Homo sapiens: one gene and its partner. The protein of the gene in region 2 interacts with the protein of the main gene of each other region in a biochemical or structural test. Each region holds a gene or a part of one and is shown on either strand. Other genes may lie near its edges.

Region 1 (12,219 bases), on a different chromosome or scaffold from region 2:
TAGAGCAATACTAACAGCAATGTGTTCACCTAGCACCTAGATCTTGGCTTTAGCACCCGAATCTTGGCTTTAAAATATCATTTCCTGTGGCTGGGGGTGGTGGCTCATGCCTGTAATCCCAGCACTTTGGGAGGCCAAGGTGGGCAGATCACCTGAGGTCAGGAGTTCGAGACCAGTCTGGCCAACATGATGAAACCGTCTCTACTAAAAATACAAAAATCAGCTGGGTGTGGTGACGGGTGCCTGTAATCCCAGCTACTTGGGAGGCTGAGGCACCAGAATCACTTAAACCCAGGAGGCAGAGGTTTCAGTGAGCCAAGACCGCGTCATTGCACTCCAGCCTGGGTGACAAGAGTGAGACTCCATCTCAAAATAAAAAACCATTTCCTGGCTGGGTGCAGTAGCTCATGCCTGTAATTCCAGCACTTTGGGAGACCGAGGCAGGTGGATCACTTGGTCAGTTTGAGACAGACTGACCAACATGGCGAAACCCTATCTCTACTAAAAACACAAAAAAATTACCCAGGGCTGGTGGCACATGCCTGTAATCCCAGCTACTACGGAGGCTGAGGCACAAGAATTACTTGAATCTGGGAGGCAGAGGTTGCAGTGAACCAAGATCGCACCACTGCACTCTACCTGGGCGACTGAGTGAGACTCTGTCTCTAAAATAAAATAAAATAACATTTCCTACTAAAAGAAACCAGGGATCCTTGGAGAAATGGCTGATTCCAAGGCTGGGGCAGAGACAACAGATGACAGGATGTTCCAAGGTAATCAAACTATCAAAGAATGAAGTAATTGAAAAATGAGGGGACATGTAAAAAAAATACGCAGATCTCAGCAACCACATCCAGTCACTCCACTCAGCCCTTACCAAGTATTTTCTGCATGTCAAGGAGTTTAAACACTTTACTGATATTTAACTCCATATTTAATCTTTGTAACCACTGTGAAGTACTATTAACAATGAGGAAACTCAGGCATGGAAAGTAATGCAACCAGGAATCATGAGCATATATTATTTTTCACTTGTTCTAAGTGTAAAATTTTAGCAAATTCAGAGCTGTGCCACAATCTAACTTTCAAACATTTCCATAATTCCCAAAAGAAATGTCAGGCCCATTTGTAGTTACTCTGCGCTCCACTGTGCAACCACTACTTTCTGTCTCTATGGATGTGTCTTTTCTGAACATTTCATACAAATGGAATTACACAATATATGGTGTTTTTGTTTAGTTTCTTTCACTTAGCACAATCTTTTTAAGGTTTACTGCAATAGGTATCAGAATTTCATTCCTTCTTATTGTCAAATAGTATTCCGTGGTATAGCTATACTATACTTTATTCATTTACCAGCTGATATATATCTGGGTTTCTTACATTTTTTTGGCTACTGTGAATAACGCAGCTATGAACATTCATGTACAAGTTTTTGCGTGAACATACATTTTCATTTCTCTTGAGTAGACAGATACCTGGCAGTATAACTCCTGGGTCATATAATTCATTTATGTTTAACTTCTTAAGAAACTGTCAAACCAGGAGGGGCGCTGTGGCTCACAGTTATAATCCCAACACTTTGGGAGGCCAAGCCAGGGGACTGCTTGAAGACAAGAGTTCAAGATGAGCCTGGACACATAGACACGTAGGGTCCATCTCTATGAAAAAATTTTTATAAGCCAGGCGTGGTGGCTCATGCCTGTAATCCCAGCACTTTGGGAGGCCAAGGTGGGCAGATCACCAGAGGTTGGGAGTTCAAGACCAGCCTGACCAACATGGAGAAACCGTCTCTACTAAAAATACAAAAAATTAGCCGGGCGTGGTGGCGCATGCCTGTAATCCCAGCTACACGGGAGGCTGAGGCAGGAGAATCACTAGAACCCAGGAGGTGGAGGTTGCAGTGAGCCAGGATCACGCCATTGCACTCCAGCCTGGGCAACAAGAGTGAAACTCCGTCTCAAAAAAAAAATTTTTTATAAAAATTAGCCAGGCTTGGGTGGTGCACACCTGTGGTCTCCTAGCTACCTGGCAGGCTGAGGCAGAAGGACTGCCTGAGCCCAGGGGTTGGAGGCAGCAGTGAGCTATGACCATGCCGTGGCACTACAGCCTGGGTGATAGAGTGAGACCTTCCTTGTCTCTTTAAAAAAGAAAGAAAGAAAAAAAAGGGGTGAGGGGAGGAAATGAAAGAAGAGAAGGAAGGAAAGAAAATAAAAAAGACAGAAAAGAAAATTGCCAAACTGTTTTCCAAAATAGTTATATCACTTTACATTCCCACCAGCAATATACAAGTGTTTTTTTCCACATCCTCACCAATATTTGCTATTGTTTATTATTCTTACAGGCAAAAAAGTAAAAAATATTTTTAAGAGGCTAAAACTATATATACTTATTACTTTTTGCCCCACCGTCTTTCCTTTTTATATAAAATTCTGTCACCTTTCAAACATCTACACCTTCCATGACATAAATCAAAACTGAATAAAATCTGAATATGTTCAATAAATGCAGAAAACCATACATTTGCATAAATAACTGCTCTTACATAAAATTTTACTTCAAATTTAAAATGAAAGATTATATATACACACACAGTATGTACATAACATCACTTAGAAATGGCATACATACCTAATTTTAGTTCAATTGCTGTGTTGGTGTTACATTTGTACTCTGCCAGTTTCTTCTCCACTGCACTCTTATATTCTACCAAAAATTTCTCCATAGCACCAAATCCTAAGAGAAAAGGTTTTTAAAAGGTTTAGTTTGGAAGTGACTTAAATTGTCAAACCTGCAATAGGGTTATTATAAGTGGAATAGGGGTATGATTTAAAACATGCTGATAGATCATAAAAGCACAAGTCATTCTCCACATACTCTTAAATAAATGTATTAAGAATGCCAGCTGGGCACGGTGGCTCACGCCTGTAATCCCAGCACTCTGGGAGGCTGAGGTGGGTGGATCACAAGGTCAGGAGTTCGAGGTCAGCCTCGCCAAGATGGTGAAACCCGTCTCTACTAAAAATACAAAAATTAGCCGGGCACGGTGACGGGCGCCTGTAATCCCAGCTACTTGGGAGGCTGAGGCAGGAGAATCTCTTGAACCCAGGAGGCAGAGGGTGCAGTGAGCCGAGATCATGCCACTGCCCTCTAGCCTGGGCGACAGAGCAAGACTCCATCTCAAAAAAAAAAAAAAAAAAAAAGAATGCCTCATTACAAAACAGAAAAAGAAATCACTTTTGAGATACAGGCTTATAAACTAGGAATACTTAATATAAATGAATAAACCTGAAAATTAACATGATAGATTACTAACATTTCTGAACATGTACTAATACAAATTACCTGCTAGGATTTATACCTAAGTCGTCTTTTTCATTATAAGATGTAAAAAGCAAAATGAGAATGTCCTCTGATAATTATGACAGAATTTCATTTTAAGTATTGGAAAAAGTCTACCAGAGTGCTTCAGATAAGGAAATGATAATGCATGGAATGTCTCAAGAAGAATACACAAATATCTGGTAACCATAGTTACCATGGGTAAAGAAAGAAGGAAGAGGAACAGGGGCACAAAGAAAACATCTTTCCACTGTATTAAATATTTAAAAATCATGTATGCCTAAAGTCATAAACTGTGAGCTACTGGCACAATAGTTTTACTACATAGTGGCTACTCAATAATATACATAATAAATAACATTGGAAGATATCACTATCAAGAGAAACTTTCAAGATAACAAATCTCCTGACAAAATGGGCATATGATTAGTAAAAATGGGCTGGGCGCGGTGGCTCACGCCTGTAATTTCAGCACTTTGGGAGGCCGAGGCAGGGGGATCGCGAGGTCGAGACGGATATCATCCTGGCCAACATGGTGAAACCCCATCTCCACTAAAAATACAAAAATTAGCTGGACGTGGTGGCGCGTGACTGTAGTCCTAGCTACTCCGGAGGCTGAGGCAGAATTGCTTGAATCCAGAAGGCAAAGGTTGCCGAGATCGCGCCACTGCACTCCAGCCTGGTGACAGAGCGAGACTCAGTCTCCAAAAAAAAAAAAAATCAGTAAAAATTCAGACAGAAAAAAGCCATAAGCAAAAAATAAAAAGGGGTACAATGATGTGCTATAAACTTCAAAAAGGGGTTAAAACACACACACAGAAAATGGGAAAGACTTGAAGCAGTACAGATTAATAGTCTGGAGTGAGAATTCCTGGATTCTGACTATTTCACACACTTACTGAGCTAGTAAGCTCAGGGAACTAGAGCACATTACTTAACCCCTCTGACCCTAATCTACAGAACCGAGATTACAGAATTTACTTCGAGGAATGTAAGCAACAAAATTTAACCTGTGAAATCATATATTAGCTCAATCTGCACAATTCTATAAGTAGGTATTACATCAACCCCATTTTACATTCAAAAGTTCAGGCTTAGAAAGAGGTTTAGTTGAAGGGCATCCAACTACTAAATGATGGGCCCAAAATTCGAATTTAGATGTAATTCTTAGAGTACGTCCTCCCTCTTCTGTGGTACTTCAAGATCCTACAATCTCCATCTGGTAGAAAAGTCCTTCTTTAAACATCTGTAGAGCTCACACAACAGCTTGTCTATCCCACATATTCATAAAAATGGAATGGTTAATGTAGAGAGACTATGAGGAATGCCCTGTAAAGAGATGATAAAAGCAACAAAGGCCAGCGAAGTGGCTCAATCCTGTCATTCCAACACTTTGGGAAGCTGAGGCGAGAGGATGGCTTGAGGCCAAGAGTTCCAGACCGGCCTGAGGCAATACAGCCAGACTCTGTCTCTAAAAGGTTAAAAAAAATTGTTTTTTTTTAGCCGAATGTTGTGGCGCATGCCTGTAGTCCTAGCTACTCGGGAGGCTGAGGCAAGAGGATCGCTTGAGCCTACGAGGAGTTGGAAGCTGCCCGGAACTATGATCGCTGCACTCCAGCCTGGGCGACAGAGAGACCCTGTCTCAGGAAAAAGAAACTGTCCATAACTTCAAAAGATAAGTAATCGAAAAAAATAATCACACCAAAACAGCCTTAATACACGTACAAAGTAATAGCAATTATACATTATTAAATGTTGTAACTTGAAGGGTCTCTAGAATGTACACAAGAGAATTGTATTATAGTAGTCCAACCCTAAAAGAGAAGGGAGCAGTTCAGGAACAAAGTCTTTCTCAAAGGGCATCTAAATACGATCCTCGGAATACTAAAGTGTGACAGATTAACGAGACGACTACGAAGTCAGTCGAGATCCAAGTGGGAGCGCCAGAGCAGGGCAAGGCAGCAATGCGCTAGCTCAGAAGTTGACTGTAGTGGAAGGTAGACGGAGACCTGGAAGAGGAGGAGGATCTGAGCATTAAAATCAGCTGGCGGGAACAGGACCAGATGTACAAGAGCTGAAGCAAGCAGCAGTGGACAAAAGGAATGGGAAGAGAAACAGGCCCCAAGGCATGTGGCATTTTACGAGCCCAAATCATGACGCTTTTCCCTGGCGTCTTCGGCCCTCGGTAGGGGCCGGATTGCTGGCAGAAGGCGCAGAACCCCAAGCAGTTGGGGGCGGGGGCGCGGACCGCCGCCAACAAGGAGCTGCTGGGCTGAGAGTTCCGCGCTTCCGGTCCCAAGCAGGCCTTCTGGAACCCAGGCTACAGCCCGAAAGTTCTAGGCGGGCATTGTCACCACCGTCTCGGCGTTCTATCCCCGATCTGGCCGCCTCCTCCCCTTGGTAAACTTTTCCCGGTAACTTACCCGCCATTTCCGAGCTACGATCACCCGCGGCTGAGGAAGGACGAATCAACCCGCGCGCTCCCGGGCCGGAAGTGACCGCACAGTCTGACATATTTTCCCCGCCCACTCCCAGCGTGACGTTAGCCAATTAAAGGAGGCGTGTCCAGGAGCCCGGCGGCGGAAGCGCCTCAAGAGGCGGGGCTAACGCCGAGAAGTCTGCGCGGGCCGTTGCCTAGCCACTGCGAATGCCGTCAGCCGCTTTGCAGGCCTGAAGTGGAGAAGGAGGCCGCAAACGGACTTTCGCGGTTGAGATGCTCTCTGGCCCTAGGAAAGTTTCTCTGGGGTTGATTTGATCAATACAGACACTTTACGCCTGTTTTCCATACCCGTCCCTGAGATGTTTTGGAGACTGGCTGAAAATCTTTCCTCTTGGCCTGGACAGTGCATCCAAACACCTGAGCCCTGTGGGCAATTTTACCATTTTACCTAGGTAAAATGTAGAGGTTGAGTTTCAGTTGCGGGAGAAGCTTTCACTTGTTTTCCTCATTTGTTTCTCATTTTGCTGTAAACTTTAACACCTTTTTTCCTTTCTCCCCTGTTTTTAACGTATACAGTATGATATTTAGGTACTCTGCTTTCACTCTGCAGGTTACTAAGAACCGTTTAGCGCGCAAAAATCGTTACCTAGGCCGGGCGCGGTGGCTCACGCCTATAATCCCAGCACTTTGGGAGGCCGAGGCGGGTAGATTGCCTGAGCTCAGGAGTTCGAGACCAGTGTAGCCAACATAGTGAAACCCCGTCTCTACTAAAAATACAAAAATTAGCCAGGCATGGTGGCAGGCGCCTGTAATCCCAGCTACTCGGGAGGCTGAGGCAGGAGAATCGCTTGAACCCTGGAGGCGAAAGTTGCAGTGAGCCGAGATTGCGCCACTACACTCCAGCCTGGGCAACAGAGTGAGACTCCGTCTCAAAAAAAAAAAAAAATTGTTACCTAATAAATACCTCAAGTAGCCTGATGTAGTCTTGCATGCCACATGTCCTAGTGGTTTGAATTACATCACAAGGTGCTACCTGATTTTAGCCATAGGCCTTGTTAGTATTTAGTAGCTGTAGGAACTGCTTTCCCCAGAGGATAAACCACTATTTAGGTATCCACAAATATTCCCACAATGTTGGCTATACACCAGAATTCCTTATCTCAACAAATATTTGTTAACAGGTTTTACAGTGATGCACGCTAAAGCTAAAATGGACCCTTGGGATGATGGTCTAGAACTAACACGCCCTCTCATTTTAGAGATGAGGAAACCAAAGCCCAGAAAAGATAAACTGCCCAAGTTCATTCTCAGTATGCAACCTATGCAGAGTGCAGTTCATCAGATACTCAGCCCAGTATTTATTTGCTCAACTATATAGAGATGGCTTTCCTGAAGATAAAGATCAGAAAAGGTACTGAGAATGCCCAGATCCTTTTTCTTTCTTTTTTTTTTTTTTTTTTTTAGACGGAGTTTCACTCTTGTTGCCCAGGCTGGAGTGCAATGGCACAATCTCAGCTCACCACAGCCTCCGCCTCCCGGGTTCAAGCGATTCTTCTGCCTCAGCCTCCTGAGTCGCTGGGATTACAGGCATGCGCCACCACACCCAGCAATTTTGTATTTTTGTAGAGACGGGGTTTCTCCATGTTGGTTAGGCTGATCTCGAACTCCCAACCTCAGATGATCTGCCCATCTCGGCCTCCAAAAGTGCTGGGATTACAGTCGTGATCCCAAGAAAAGGTTTCAAGATCCTTTTTCTTGAAACCTAATGATACACAAGAAATTACAGTCATAGGCCGGGCGTGGTGGCTCACGCCTGTAATCCCAGCACTTTGTGATGCCGAGGCGGGCGGATCACGAGATCAGGAGATCCAGACCATCCTGACTAACATGGTGAAACCCTGTCTCTACTAAAAATACAAAAAAAGTAGCCGGGCGTGGTAGCGGGTGCCTGCAGTCCCAGCTACTCAGGAGGCTGAGGCAGGAGAATGGCGTGAACCTGGAAGGCGGAGCTTGCAGTGAGCCGAGATCCCGCCACTGCACTCCAGCCTGGGCAAGAGCGAGACCCCGTCTCAAAAAAAAAAAAAGAAATTACAGTCATAATGTTAAGACAGAAAACTGAAATCAATGAGACTAATGACATTATGGATCAAAAAAGGAAAACAATCTTTTTCTTTAATAATCATTTTTGGCTAGGCACGGTGGCTCACACCTGTAATCCCAGCACTTGGGAGGCCAAGGCAGGCAGATCACCTGAGGTCAGGAGTTTGAGACCAGCCTGGCCAACATGGTAAAACCCTGTCTCTACTAAAAAGTACAATAAATTAACCAGGCGTGGTGACATGAGCCTGTAATCTCAACTACTTGGGAGGCTGAGGCAGTAGAATCGCTTGAACCCAGGAGGCGGAGGTTGCAGTGAGCTGAGATAGTGCCACTGCACTCCAGCCTGCTCAAGAGAGCGAGACTCCATCTCAAAAAAAAAAAAAAACTTTTCTTTTCAAAATGGCAAGACTTATCATTTCTTTCCAAAATCACCTTATCTATGGATCAATTGCTGACCAGCAATTATGATCTTTATAAGTAAGAAATCAAGAAGAATTACGTTTTAACTGTGGTATATCACAGATTATTAGTCCTGTGATATTATGGTTAGTTGTAGGAAAAAAATATGATGAAACTTACTGATATATTGTATGACTAGCATTTAATGTGATTTGCTTGCAGAATTGAGGTTTTATATTGTCCTCGTCTTAGATGTTCACTTTTTTTTTTTTTTTTTTTTTTGAGACAGGGTCTCACTCTCACCCAGGCTGGATTGCAATGATGCAATCATAGCTCACTACAGCCTCCAGCCTCCAACTGCTGGGCTCAAAAGATCCTCCTGCCTCTCAGCCTCCCAAATAGCCAGGACTACAAATGTGTGCCATTGTGCACAGCTAATTTTTTTGTTTTTTGTAGAAATGGAGTCTCAGTATGTTGCCCAGGCTGGTCCCAAACTCCTGGCCTCAAGCAATCCTCTCAGCTTGGCCTCCCGGAATGCTAGGATAATAGGTGTGAGCCACCATGTCCATCCTCACATTTTTTTTTTTTAATGTTACAGAATAGATGTTTTGGTACAGTTTACCTAAAAGATAAAAGAATGACTTATTTTGGAAAGGTAATGTGAAAATTACCCAAAAGGAAAAAAATTCTCTTTTTTTTTGTAGGGATTTCTTTCCTTTTTTAACTTATATTTTACTTTGTTCTAAAGAGAATTTAAGAAAGCAACTATTACAATCATGGAATAAAATTTCTATGAAAGGAATATGCTATCCTCATATATATATGGAAGAGACAACATATCTTGTGGGAAGTTTACTGCCCTACTAGTCCCAGTTCTACTACTTCATGCTTGTTCAACCTTGTTGCATCTATTAAGTGGAGATAATAGTACTGCCCAGTCACCACACTGGGTTGCTGTAAAAACTAAACGGAATAATATTTGTGAACGACCTTTGTAAACTCTAAAACTCTATGCAGGTATGAAGTGGTATTACTATGATAACATTTATTCTAGTAAGGGAGATTTGGAAAAGGCATTTTCTTCAGAGAAAAGGGCCATATTACACTATTAGGTATGAACTGGCAACCATGTGTTGGTACAGGCTCAAGTTCATATGGACTGATAAACTTCACTATCTTGCTTTGAAACCTCCAGAATGGATTAAAATTTGGCACAAAAAAATATGGTCATCGGGCCGGGCGCAGTGGCTCATGCCTGTAATCCCAGCACTTTGGGAGGCCGAGGCAGGCAGATCACGAGGTTAGGAGATCGACAGCATCCTGGCTAACACGGTGAAACCCCGTCTCTACTAAAAACACAAAAAATTAGCCAGGCGTGGTGGCGGGCGCCTGTAGTCCCAGCTACTTGGGAGGCTGAGGCAGGAGAATGGCATGCACCCAGGAGGCGGAGCTTGCAGTGAGCCGAGATCATGCCACTGTACTCCAGCCTGGGAGACAGACTCCGTCTCAAAATATATATATATATATATGGTCATCAGAAAATTGATGCAGGAAATCAATTTTAAGAAAAATGCATGTATGTAATGTGTCTTCATTTCAAAATGCATACCTTTACACAGACAAATAACAGTAGTTAGTTAGCTCATTTTTTTAGCTCGTAGTGCTAATGAGCATAAAGTTATGAGTCTCAGTTCCCAGAGCAATTATCCAGAAACCATTATCCAGCTAGATGACTTCCAAATGGGATACAAGAAAGAAAATAGGCTGGGCGCGGTGGCTCACGTCTGTGATCCCAGCACTTTGGGAGGCCGAGGCAGGCAAATCACATGAAGTCAGGAGTTCGAGACCAGCCTGGCCAACATGGTGAAACTCCATCTCTACTGAAAATACAAAAATTAACCGGGTGTGGTGGCATACACCCGTAATTCCAGCTACTCAGGAGGCTGAGGCAGGAGAATTGCTTGAGCCCGGGAGACGGAGGTTGCAGTGAGCCGAGATCCCGCCATTGCACTCCAGCCTGGGCGACAGAGCGAGTCTGTCTCAAGAAAAAAAAAAAAAGGAAAGAAAGAAAATAAAAATGGACCGGCTCATGTTGAAAACTACTGTAAGAGGACCCCTATCCTAAATACACAAAAATTACCAACAGTCTTTATTTTCCAACTCTAATGTACTACCCATACGTGTATAAATTAGTAACTTTTGAGGGGCAATTTAGAAATTTTAACACATTTTTACAAATGTAACAAAATTTTCAATTTGTGTATCCTTTGAGGCAACAACAGTTCCACTTTTAAGCATTTGTACTGCAAAACTATTTCACAGAAATGCAAAGATACACTAAAACAAAGATGTTCAATGCTGTATTATTTTCACTGGCAAGTTGAAAATAGCCTAAACTACTAGCACAAGGGGCTGGCTAATATGTTCTATCTCCTATACAATAGGCTAAAAAATAAATTACAAAAAATATAATGTTATTTCATTTATATAAAAATATATTTTGATATAAACAGAAAACATCTGAAAGCATACCTCACAAACTTAACTATAGTTGCCTTTAGGGGGAATTTAGAGATGGGGATTAATGAGGTTTTTTGTTTTTGTTTTTGTTTTGGAGACAGAGTCTGCCCAGGCTGGAGTGTAGTGGCATGATCTCGGCTCACTGCAATCTCCACCTCCTAGGTTCAAGCAATTCTCCTGCCTTAGCCTCCCGAGTAGCTGGGGCTACAGTGAGCATCCGCCACCACACCCAGCTAATTTTTGTAATTTTAGGGTTTCACCATGTTGGCCAGGCTGTTCTGGAACTCCTGACCTCAAGTGATCTGCCTCCTTGGCCTCCCAAAGTGCTGGGATTATAGGCGTGAGCCACCGCGCCCAGCCTAATGAGTTTTTTTATTCTTTAATACCATTTGTCTCTTTCAATGATGATGTATTGGTTTCTTTCACAGTTAGAAACTTATCCATCTGGCTGCGCGTGGTGGCTCACACCTATAATCCCAGCACTTTGGGAGGCCAAGGTGGGCAGATCGCCTGAGGTCCGGAGTTGGAGACCAGCTTGACCAACATGGAGAAATCCCGTCTCAAAGAAAAATACAGAATTAGCCGGGTGTGGTGGTGCATGCCTGTAATCCCAGCTACTCGGGAGGCTGAGGCAGGAGAATCACTTGAACCCGGGAGGCAGAGGTTGCGGTGAGCCAAGATCACGCCATTGCACTCCAGCCTGGGTAACTAGAGCAAAATTCCGTCTCAAAAAAAAAAAAAAAAGAGAAACTTATCCATCTTTTTGGAGGTTTTTAGACATGGTTGCTAACTCCCTATCCTCTTCTCTACATTCGACGTATTATGGTACACAGACTCTAAGGGAAGCAATTTAATCAAAACTAGGAACAATTAGTTGAAAACTAATATTTTCCATTTTGCATTTTGTCATTATTTACAAGCAAAGATTGGCCAAAATAACAAGCACTATAATTATTTATACCTGTTTTCAAAATGACTGTCCAGTGATGCCTGCTTTACTTTTGGAAACTAATTTATTAGAATGGCATTAATTATGTATTTGTCTACTTTTGGTAGGTAATACAATAATAACTGTGATATTATACATTCTATCATTAAAATGCTATTTTAAGTATTATTATTATTATTTTTTTTTTTTTTGAGACGGAGTCTCACTCTGTCGCCTCTGTCCCAAAGTGCTGGGATTACAGGTGTGAGCCACCGCACCAGGCCATTGTCTTTCTTTTAATGTAAAAAAACACATAACATATAACTTACCATGTTAACTATTTTTAAGTTTATAGTTCAGTAATATTAAGAATATATTCACCTTGTTGTGAAATCTGTCATTTTAATAGGTTGGTTTTCAGTCAACTCCTTTGTAACCTATTTACCTATATCACTATGTACAGCAGGAGTTTTAACTTCCCATGATGTGG
Region 2 (9,419 bases):
AAGGGTGTTTGGAAGTGGTGCCTCCACTTAGAGCCCTTTGTCCAAGAGGGATTAAGCCTGCTTGATTCTCTCTGCTAAACTGAGGATGGAACCCCAGAAATATCTGTGCTGGGTTCTGCTAACTTTTCTGCTCAAACTCAACAGTTCGATGTCATCTATTCCCCAGTTTCCGCCTATTTAAAGTGACATATACTAAACTACTCATGTATTTTTGTATTTAAGCAATTTTAAAGCACAAGGTATTTAAGGGTGACCCTTGCAAATATGTGCAGCATGTAAGTGCCCAGGGACATTCAAGTGGAAGGAATCTAAGGCTTCTAACACATTTTCAAATGGTTATGTGACCCAAAGTGGCTAAGAATCACTGCCTCAGGGAAGCCCACCTGGCCCAGATACCACTCCCTGCTTTTGCTTTCCTCTCTGGACAGCCGGGACTTGCCAATCTTAGCCTGCCTGAGCCCCTGGGGTTTCTCTGATATCGTCCTCAGTTCTTGCCTCAGGATGCTGCCACAGACCCAGCATGGTCCAGAAGCTAGGATGCCAGAGTCCCTAACATTGCTGGCCCCACACTCCAGGCTACAATGTCCAGTCCCCAAACCGCAGCCAGAAAATAACAGAGGGGGAAACTGAGGCCTAGCTAGGGCAAAGTCAGGGTGAACAGACAGTAATAGAACCTGGAAGTACTACCAACTCACAGTGGCCCTGACACTTCCTACTTCCCACCCCCAACCTGGGTGGCACAAGGCCTGGAAAGCACTCACTGCCCAGCAGTAACCACGAAATGGTGCCACTTCAGACCACTTAGATAGACTCAAAACCTCACTCTCCAGCCCTTTAAACATTCCTCCCCAATCAGCACTCACTTCTGCTGGGAAGCCAGGGCAAAGGTATCCTGCTTCTCCCGTGAAATGCCAAACCGCTCAGCCACATTCTCAGAGGTTATCCTAGAACACAAACAGCAGATAGTGTGGGCATTGGTCTGACAGCCTAGAGGAAGGGACCAGGCTGTAGAGCTGTGCTTGGAACTTTGGGTTCCCAAGGCTGTAGGCAGGACAGGATGTAAGGGCCAGTCCATGCCACAGACAGTAGTGATGACTCAGGATATGGTACAGCCTGCCCTGAAAGTGGATATAAAGGCACAGATAGGGAAGTCAGCAATGCTGGCCAGATCCTGAGAAGCTCATACACCAAAGAGACTTTCTTCAAGAGAGGGCAGCCTGCATGGGGGCAGTTGCAGAAAGGAGTTTGTTCCCTGGGTGAGCTGCCTCAGCGCAGGGTAGAAAAGGAGCAGGGGAGGGCCTGGGTGGGGGCACTAGTTGGCTACTCCTGGCCAGCTTCTCCTATGCCTCAAGGAAGACTGCTGCAATGTAGGGAGATGAGGACTCCCAAATCTCCTCTGGAAAGGCCAAACCTAAGCTTCCTGGTCACCTTGGCTGGGGTCTATGCTTATCCTGAGAACCTAGAGCCACAGCTAGGCCTTCCAGCCTGGGCTTCTGGCTTTATAGGCTTCCCTTGGAGATACAGTATGTGAAAGAAGCCATGGCACTGCCCCTCTCCAAGCCTCAGTCTCCTCATATGTCTAGTGGATCCAGGACTCCTGGCCCAAAGACCCTGGGGATGGCCCAGAGGCTCAGAGAAGCTAAAGTGTTCCATACAAATGCCACATACTTTTCTTTTTTTCTTTTTTGAGACAGAGTCTCCCTCTGTCACCCAGGCTGGAGTGCAGTGGCACGATCTCAGCTCACTGCAACCTCTGCCTCCTGGGTTCATGCCATTTTCCTGCCTCAGCCTCCCAAGTAGCTGGGACTACAGGCGCTCACCACCGCGCCCGGCTAATTTTTTGTATTTTCAGTAGAGACAGGGTTTCACTGTGTTAGCCAGGATGGTCTCGATCTCCTGACCTTGTGATCCACCCATCTCGGCCTCCCAAAGTGCTGGGATTACAGGCATGAGCCATCGCACCCGGCCAAATGCCACATACTTTTCTTGTTGCACCTGACAGGGCCCAATTCCCCTCACCAGCATGTTCTGTCGTCACAAGCTTCCCACTGCCTTCTCAACTTTCTAGGCCCCCAAGGCTTTGGAGTGGAGCTACCATTGTCCTTCCTATGACTGAGCACCTCAGTGTGGGAGTGACAAGGTGGGCGATGTTTGGAAACTCGGGGGCACAGAGAGGACCTGGGGCCTTCAGGAAATGGAAGTCAAGGGCAACATCAAGTCTCATCCCCAAAGTCCCTGCGGAGCAGACCATGCCCAAAGGAAGGAGGCCAAGGCTTGGCACCACCAGCCACAGAGATGATAAAAGTTCCTTGGCTCCCTGCCCCAGGCAGAGAGGGCACAAGCACACAGAGCTATGGGAGCACTCACCCCATAGGAATCAGGCAATCTCTGGCCTTCTCCTTCTCCATCAAGCGCGAAGTAATATTTCCAGGGTTCCCTCTGTCAGCCAGGGACATGGACTCCACCCTGGGGAGGAGGAAGAGGAGGAGAAGGTAAGGTGAACTGGGCCCTAGCAGGACTCCTCCAGAGATAGCTGAACACTTGGCAAGTGCTAGGAAATAGCCAGGGAGCCCTAGGAAGACCAGTGGGCCTCTGGGAGTCACAGGCAGGGCACTTGGCCAGCAAGGCCCAGCCACGAGTACTGAGCCCTGTCTCTATTTCGACCCCCACCCCAGGACAGAGCACTGCACAATAAACACTCCTGGGGGCAGGGCTATGCTTCCCTATACACTGCTAAATCAGCCAACTGGCAATTCCAGAGAAAAGCCTTCTGCTGTCAGCCACAGAGGAGGAAACACATCCACAAGCCAGGGCCTGCCCTCAGGGCCCACAAATTCAGAAGGGAGAAGAGACAATTTGAAAGTAACCACAGGCCGGCTGTGGTGGCTCACGCCTGTAATCCCAGCACTTTGGGAGGCCAAGGCGGGCAGATCATGAGGCTAACATGGTGAAACCCCGCCTCTACTAAAAATACAAAACATTAGCCGGGCATGGTGGCAGGCGCCAGGGTGGGAGGCTGAGGCAGGAGAATGGCGTAAACCCAGGAGGCGGAACTTGCAGTGAGATGAGATCGTGTCACTGCACTCCAGCCTGGGCGACAGAGCGAGACTCTGTCTCAAAAACATAAATAAATAAAATAAAAATAAAAGTAACCACAAAGCTGAGCTCAAAGGGCATTCAGACCTGCATAGACAAGGAAGTGCTACGAGCTGAGAGGAAGGAGACGGCAGTGTAGTGTGGTCAAAAAAGGGCTTTGAGGCCATGGGGGACCCTAACACCTCAAGGGATGATAACAGATAACCTTGACTGAGTGCTTTTCACGTGCCCAGCACTATTCTGAATTCTTTTGAGATATTAGAGTGCTTCAGTGTCAGTCACATGACAGACAAATACTCCACAGTGTAAACTGTTGCTATTACTCCATTTATTCTTCTCAACTTCAACAGAGCTGAGCTAGGTATCCCCATTTTATAGATCAGGAGACTGAGGTCTAGAGAGACTGTATAACTTATCCATGGTGACCCAGCCTGGATCCACATTTAGGTAGTCTGGTCCCAGAGCCCACTTCCAACTAGAGTGCCCTGTGTTAAATACTTGCTGATCAAAGTCTATGGAGAACAGTCAGCCTGTGATGTGGGTGTCAGGCCTGGCCCAGATCTTAATATCCTAGTACCATCATCCTTAACCTGCTTGGGAATCAGATACTCTCTAAGAAACTCATAAAAGCTCCAGCCCTTCTCAAGTTATCCATGCCACCTCTCACCCAGTAAGATAGAAGAGCATGAGAGAAATCAAACGGCAGTGGCCTTTGCCCAGCCAAAGTCCTTGCAGAGTGGTCTTTGGCTTTATTTACAACTGTAGACATAGGTCATTACAACTCAGTGACAGCTGCCACAGCCCTGGGACAGGGGCCAGCAATGCGTCCTCTCAAGAAATACCCTAAAGAGGATGTGAAAGGCAGCGGAGGCATGTCAGAACCCTGGGGCTGCTCACCTCCCCCAGCCTGCCAAAGACCTTACTCCCCTGCCCTCCCAGCACCAGATGCCCACCCAAGCCTGGGCACCTGTGCCCTGACCTTCCCTGGAGGCACTGCCAAATACAACTTCTGCAGCTCCATTTGCTGCAGCCAATGATGGAGCCACAGTCTAGGTGAAGGTGACAGTGACCAAACCACCACAGATCTAATTATGTCCCTCATAGCCCATAAGCAGCTGGAAGTTTCCACACTGGTTCCAAGGTGGGGAGACAAAGGGACAGACAGCCTAGTAAAATGAACAAACTAGTTATACAGTAGGCGCTGTCCCTGGCTTTAGGGAACCCAAACTGCAACTTCTCTCTCAGCAGCATCATGAATCAACAAGGGCCCCCAAAGGAAACCCAAATGCTGGATTTTCTCAAAATGTTTTCCCACCTTTTCCAGCCTGAAAGATTTCCAAGAAAGTAAGCTTTTAGAGGCCAATTCCCCTCCCCTGCTAGTGCTGAGAGGTGTGAGTGATTCCTGAGCAGCCAGAGTTGGTAGCCACTCTTAACCTGCATTTGTGAGAACCCACTCGTGGCCAGCTGCCTAAAGGGGATGGGGGGAATCCTGAAATCATGGCCTCTGAGAACTCAGATGAAAATTAGTTTTATTGTCACAAGTTGGTTAATAAGCTCCGGCAGAAAAAAATTCTTACCCACAGGCCATGCCAATGTCATAAGACCCATTTCTGATGCCACCTGTAACAAAAGCATTTCATAAACATCCTTTGCCAGAGTCCACCTGTTCTGGAAGCAGTGGAGCCTCTTCCCCACCTGGTCTCTAGATGGGACTCAGCCCCAGCCTCAGAAATGGAAGACCCAGGAGTGTTCAGAAAAGGCTTTGGGCAGTGGTAGGGGGCGCTCCTGCACTCTTTCTGTGGTTAGAGTCCTCAGAAATGGTAATTATTGCTTGCCCGGCAGACAGCGACTTTGCTGACCCAAACCCACAGGTCCAGGACCAAGGCACCCACCCAGTCATAACTTACCTGCTATGCTGGCCACTGCCTGTAGCCCCGACGAACACTGTCTATTGACAGTGGACAAAGGCACAGTCTCCGGGATGTCACTGAAACAGAAGGTGAGAAAGTAGAATCAGCCCCCAATTCCATGCCAGGCTCTCATGGAAAGCAGTCCTATGCTTCTAACTGCCCCCCTCAAGGGATGTAAAGGGCAGGGGAACAAACCCAGCAGCTCTGCTCCCATGCCAGGCCAGATCCATGGAATGGGGGTGAGCAGCTACTGGGCAGACCCCATCTCTGCAGGCACTTGCTCCCCAGGGCCCCACAAGCACATTCCCTTCTACTCCTATGAGAATCTTCAATCAAAGACCAAGCACAGCCCAAAGGCAAGGGAAGCCTGTTTGGGCCACAGGGATCCTTCTCTCTCTCTCCCTTTGAAGATTCAGAAATGAAAACTGTGTATCTCTGTTTCCCCCAAAAAACAGAGAAAAGGAACTGCTGCTGGGACAGAGCACCAGAGCAAAAGAAATGCCTAAAGTCTGAGGCCAGGGACCACTCGGCCTTACCAGTAATCATATAGCTAACCCTGCATGTTCCCATGGACTCTTGAAAGCCTGATCCCACCTAGACGAAGCACTCTGATGGGCATCATATATTCTAACATCCATTGCTCTGGTAGGTTCCCCAAGACTCTCATACTGGTCTTAGCCCTGGAAGCTAGTAGGGCTTCCCCTCCTGATGTAACCTGCCTTGGCCAACAGTACAAAGCCCTAGGGAAATTTCCAGACCTCCTCAGACCCACAGACTCAGAATCTGAGGGAGTGGAAGCATCCTGGTGATTCTGGTGTGTAGCCAGAGTTGGGAACCTCTGAACTAGTGCCCAGGCCAGGCTCTGCAGAGACTCTCTCAGGGGGATAGCCTCCTGTGCAGCCTGTTTGACCCTTCCAGGGTCCCTTAACTCCCTAGCAGGTAGTTACCATTCCTTCACTCAATCCACCAAGTGTTCACTAAATACCTACTTACCACAAGGCATCACCTGAGGGATGCTGCGATGCTTATAACACTGTGCCCTAGAGGATGCCCAACCAACACACAGAAAATGAATCAACTATCAGAGACTGAAATAATAGGGCAAGAGGGCAAACCACATCACAAGGAAGTATATGGCTACTGCTGGAGAGGAAGGGGCTCTCAATTTCAGCCTGAGAGCCTGGATAACTCATGCCAAAATGGTGAGACTGTGTTTAGGCAGGGTTTGTCTTTCTGTCTAGGGCAGAAAGAGGAGGTAGGGCTAGCACTTCAAGGAGACAGAATGACCATATCAGGGAAGACAGTAGGCCCACAGCCGGCTGAACGAAGAAAAGTCAAGGTGAGTAAGCAGCTAGGAGATGAGGCTGGAAGGTAAGTCTGGAGCCAGATTGTAGGGGGCCTTGAACTACAGGCTGGGCAGTCTAAACCTCTCCCAGTTCCTAGAGGGTTGTTTTCCTGTTCCTTCACTAGCTAATGTTCCTATTTATTTATTTATGCATCTAGAAGTACAAAGCCAAGCAGTTCTTAAATCTACACATGAAAATAATTTAAGCACTCTTTACCCTGCAGGCGCTTAAAGGAAAGTTGACCAGGTCTCCTCCTGAGGGTCCTCCTTCCCCATGGTTCTGCCCTATCCCAAAGTCTCTGCTAGTGGGATATGACTGGAGTTCTCAGCTCAACTAGTAAAAAGGCTGAAAGTCACTTTTCAGCATTCTTACTTGATTACTCACCTGACAAATGAGGACAGAGTCCACACTCACAAAAGGCAAATGACAACCTGGCTTTGGCTAAAAATCAAGCTACAGAGAACTTCTGCTCCAGTCCCAAAGGTTTTGTGTATCGTGGCTCAGCACTTCAAAGTAGGGGAGAGGTTGAGTCCACAAGAGCAGGGAGCCAAGGACTCTCGTTGCCTCATTCTGGTGTCCAACCTTATCCTCCCCAACCTGCACACTGAGTTTCCTGGGGCCTGGGCCCAGTAAAGTGTCAAAATGGCCAACCCATGGCTAGAACTAGAAAAGTTTACCTCAGAAACTGGGCGATTCGGGCCATGATTGCCCCGGCCCCAGGCTGCAGCACATTTCCTGTGGACAACAAACTTTCATTCAGTGCCAGGCGGTGGTGTTCTGGGCACTAAAGTATAGCTGTGAAAACCAGAGATGAGGCATTCCAGATCTTTCTTCGGGACACTAGCCCTTGGCAGGCTCACTTGCAACTCTGGAACATCAGGGTTTGGGGCAGGGAGAGCCAGCCATACAACAGCTTGTCCTGGTCATCCACCAGCTCCTGTCCCTGAGGGTCCCACGCTCACTTGCCCATGCACCCAGCTTTTCCAAATCAGCACAGATGGGCAGGTTGTCTGCCCTTAAAAGTGAAATGGGAGTTTCTGAAAATGCACATCTCCCCAGGTATCCTCCTGTGAGCCCTGCTGTCACCCCAGAGAGGTGGAACAGTGATTGCCGACCTAGGGGTGGCATCCGCTGGATAAGACTCTTGCCATATCATATTGCTGTATTTCAAGGTGAGGGGTGGAATAGAGGGCTGGACTGAAGATTGTGGGGAAAAGAAAGATCAGATTGTTACCGTGTGTATGTAGAAAAGGAAGACATAAGAAACTCCATGTTGATCTGTACAAAGAAAAATTGTTTCTGCTTTGAGATGCTGTTAATCTGTAACTTTAGCCCCAACTCTGTGCTCACAAAAACATGTGCTATATTGAATCAAGGTTTAAGGGATTTAGGGCTGTGCAGGATGTGCCTTGTCAACATATGTTTGCAGACAGTATGCTTGGTAAAAGTCATCGTCATTCTCCATTCTCTATTAACCAGGGACATGATGCACTGTGGAAAGCCGCAGGGACCTCTGCCCAAGAAAGCCTGGGTATTTGTCCAAGGTTTCCCCCCACTGAGACAGCCTGAGATATGGCCTCGTGGGAAGGGAAAGACCTTACTGTCCCCCAGCCCGACACCTGTAAAGGGTCTGTGCTGAGGAGGATTAGTAAAAGAGGAAGGCCTCTATTTCCCGCACATCCCTGGGAACGGAATGTCTCGGTGTAAAGCCGACTATTGGTTCTATTTACTGAGATAGGAGAAAACCGCCCTGTGGCTGGAAGCGAAATATGCTGGCAGCAATACTGCTCTGTTACTCTTTGCTACACTGAGATGTCTGGGTAAAGAGAAACAAAAATCTAGCCTACATGCACATCTCAGCACAGTACCTTCCCTTGAACTTATTTATGATGCAGATTCCTTTACTCACATGTTTTCCTGCTGACCTTCTCCCCACCATCACCCTGTTCACCCCGTTTTGCCTGAAGAGGGCCTGCCCCTCCACACCTGTGGGTATTTCTCGCAAGGTGGAGACGAGAAACTGAGAAAAGAAATGACACAGAGACAAAGTATAGAGGAAGAAAAGTGGGCCCAGGGGACTGGTGCTCAGCAATTGAGGACCTACACCAGCACTGGTCTCTGAGTTCCCTCAGTATTTATTGATCACTATCTCTACTATCTTGGCAAGAGGGATGTGGCATTATATACCATTACTATAAGGTAATGGTGGGGAGGGGGTCAACAGGAAAAAATGTGAGCAAAGGACTCAGTGTCATAAGTAAGTTTAAGGAAAGGTGCTGTGCCTGGATGTGCACATAGGCCAGATTTATGTTTGACTTTACACAAACATCTCAGTGCAGTAAAGAGCAGTATTGCCGCCAGCATGTCTCACCTGCAGCCATAAGGCGGTTTTCTCCTATCTCAGTAAATAGAATGTATGGTTGGGTTTTACACCCAAGACATTCCATTCCCAGGGACAAGCAGGAGACAGATGCTTTCCTCTTATCTCAACTGCAAAGAGGCCTTCCTCTTTTACTAATACTCCTCAGCACCGACCCTTTACGGGTGTCTGCAAAGAGGCCTTCCTCTTTTACTAATACTCCTCAGCACAGACCCTTTACGGGTGTCGGGCTGGGGGACTGTAAGGTCTTTCCCTTCCCACTAGGCCATATCTCAGACAATCTCAGTGGGGGGAAACCTGGACAATACCCAGGCTTTCTTGGGCAGAGGTCCCTGCGGCCTTTCGCAGTGCACTGTGTACCTGGTTAATCGAGAATGGAGAATGGCGATGACTTTTACCAAGCATACTGCCTGCAAACAAATGGTTAACAAGCCACATCCTGCACAGCCCTAAATCCCTCAAACCTTGATTCAATACAGCACATGTTTCTGTGAGCACAGGGTTGGGGCTAAGGCTACAGATTAACAGCATCTCAAGGCAGAAAAATTTTTCTTAGTACAGATCAAAATGGAGTTTCTTCTGTCTTCCTTTTCTACACAGACACAGTAACAGTCTGATCTCTCTTCCTTTCCCCCACACTGCCGCACTCCCCTTGCCGAGATAGTGAAAATAGTAATCAATAAATAC

The links.
Region 1: of the proteins of ACAA1 (region 2) and HAT1, one has a biochemical effect on the other in vitro, tested with the Homo sapiens proteins (one study listed by BioGRID).

The regions. Positions count from the first base shown.
Region 1 is NC_000002.12:171,916,054-171,928,272, reverse strand, and holds the start of HAT1 (histone acetyltransferase type B catalytic subunit), read right to left. Parts: upstream 5,813-12,219; 5' UTR 5,773-5,812; coding exon 5,766-5,772; intron 5,352-5,765; exon of another isoform or gene 5,156-5,351; intron 2,737-5,155; coding exon 2,632-2,736; intron 1-2,631. UniProt on the Homo sapiens protein: Histone acetyltransferase that plays a role in different biological processes including cell cycle progression, glucose metabolism, histone production or DNA damage repair. Coordinates histone production and acetylation via H4 promoter binding.
Region 2 is NC_000003.12:38,126,923-38,136,341, forward strand, and holds part of ACAA1 (3-ketoacyl-CoA thiolase, peroxisomal), read right to left. Parts: intron 7,088-9,419; coding exon 7,030-7,087; intron 6,970-7,029; exon of another isoform or gene 6,569-6,969; intron 5,084-6,568; coding exon 5,004-5,083; intron 4,717-5,003; coding exon 4,674-4,716; intron 2,467-4,673; coding exon 2,368-2,466; intron 945-2,367; coding exon 864-944; intron 1-863. UniProt on the Homo sapiens protein: Responsible for the thiolytic cleavage of straight chain 3-keto fatty acyl-CoAs (3-oxoacyl-CoAs). Plays an important role in fatty acid peroxisomal beta-oxidation. Catalyzes the cleavage of short, medium, long, and very long straight chain 3-oxoacyl-CoAs.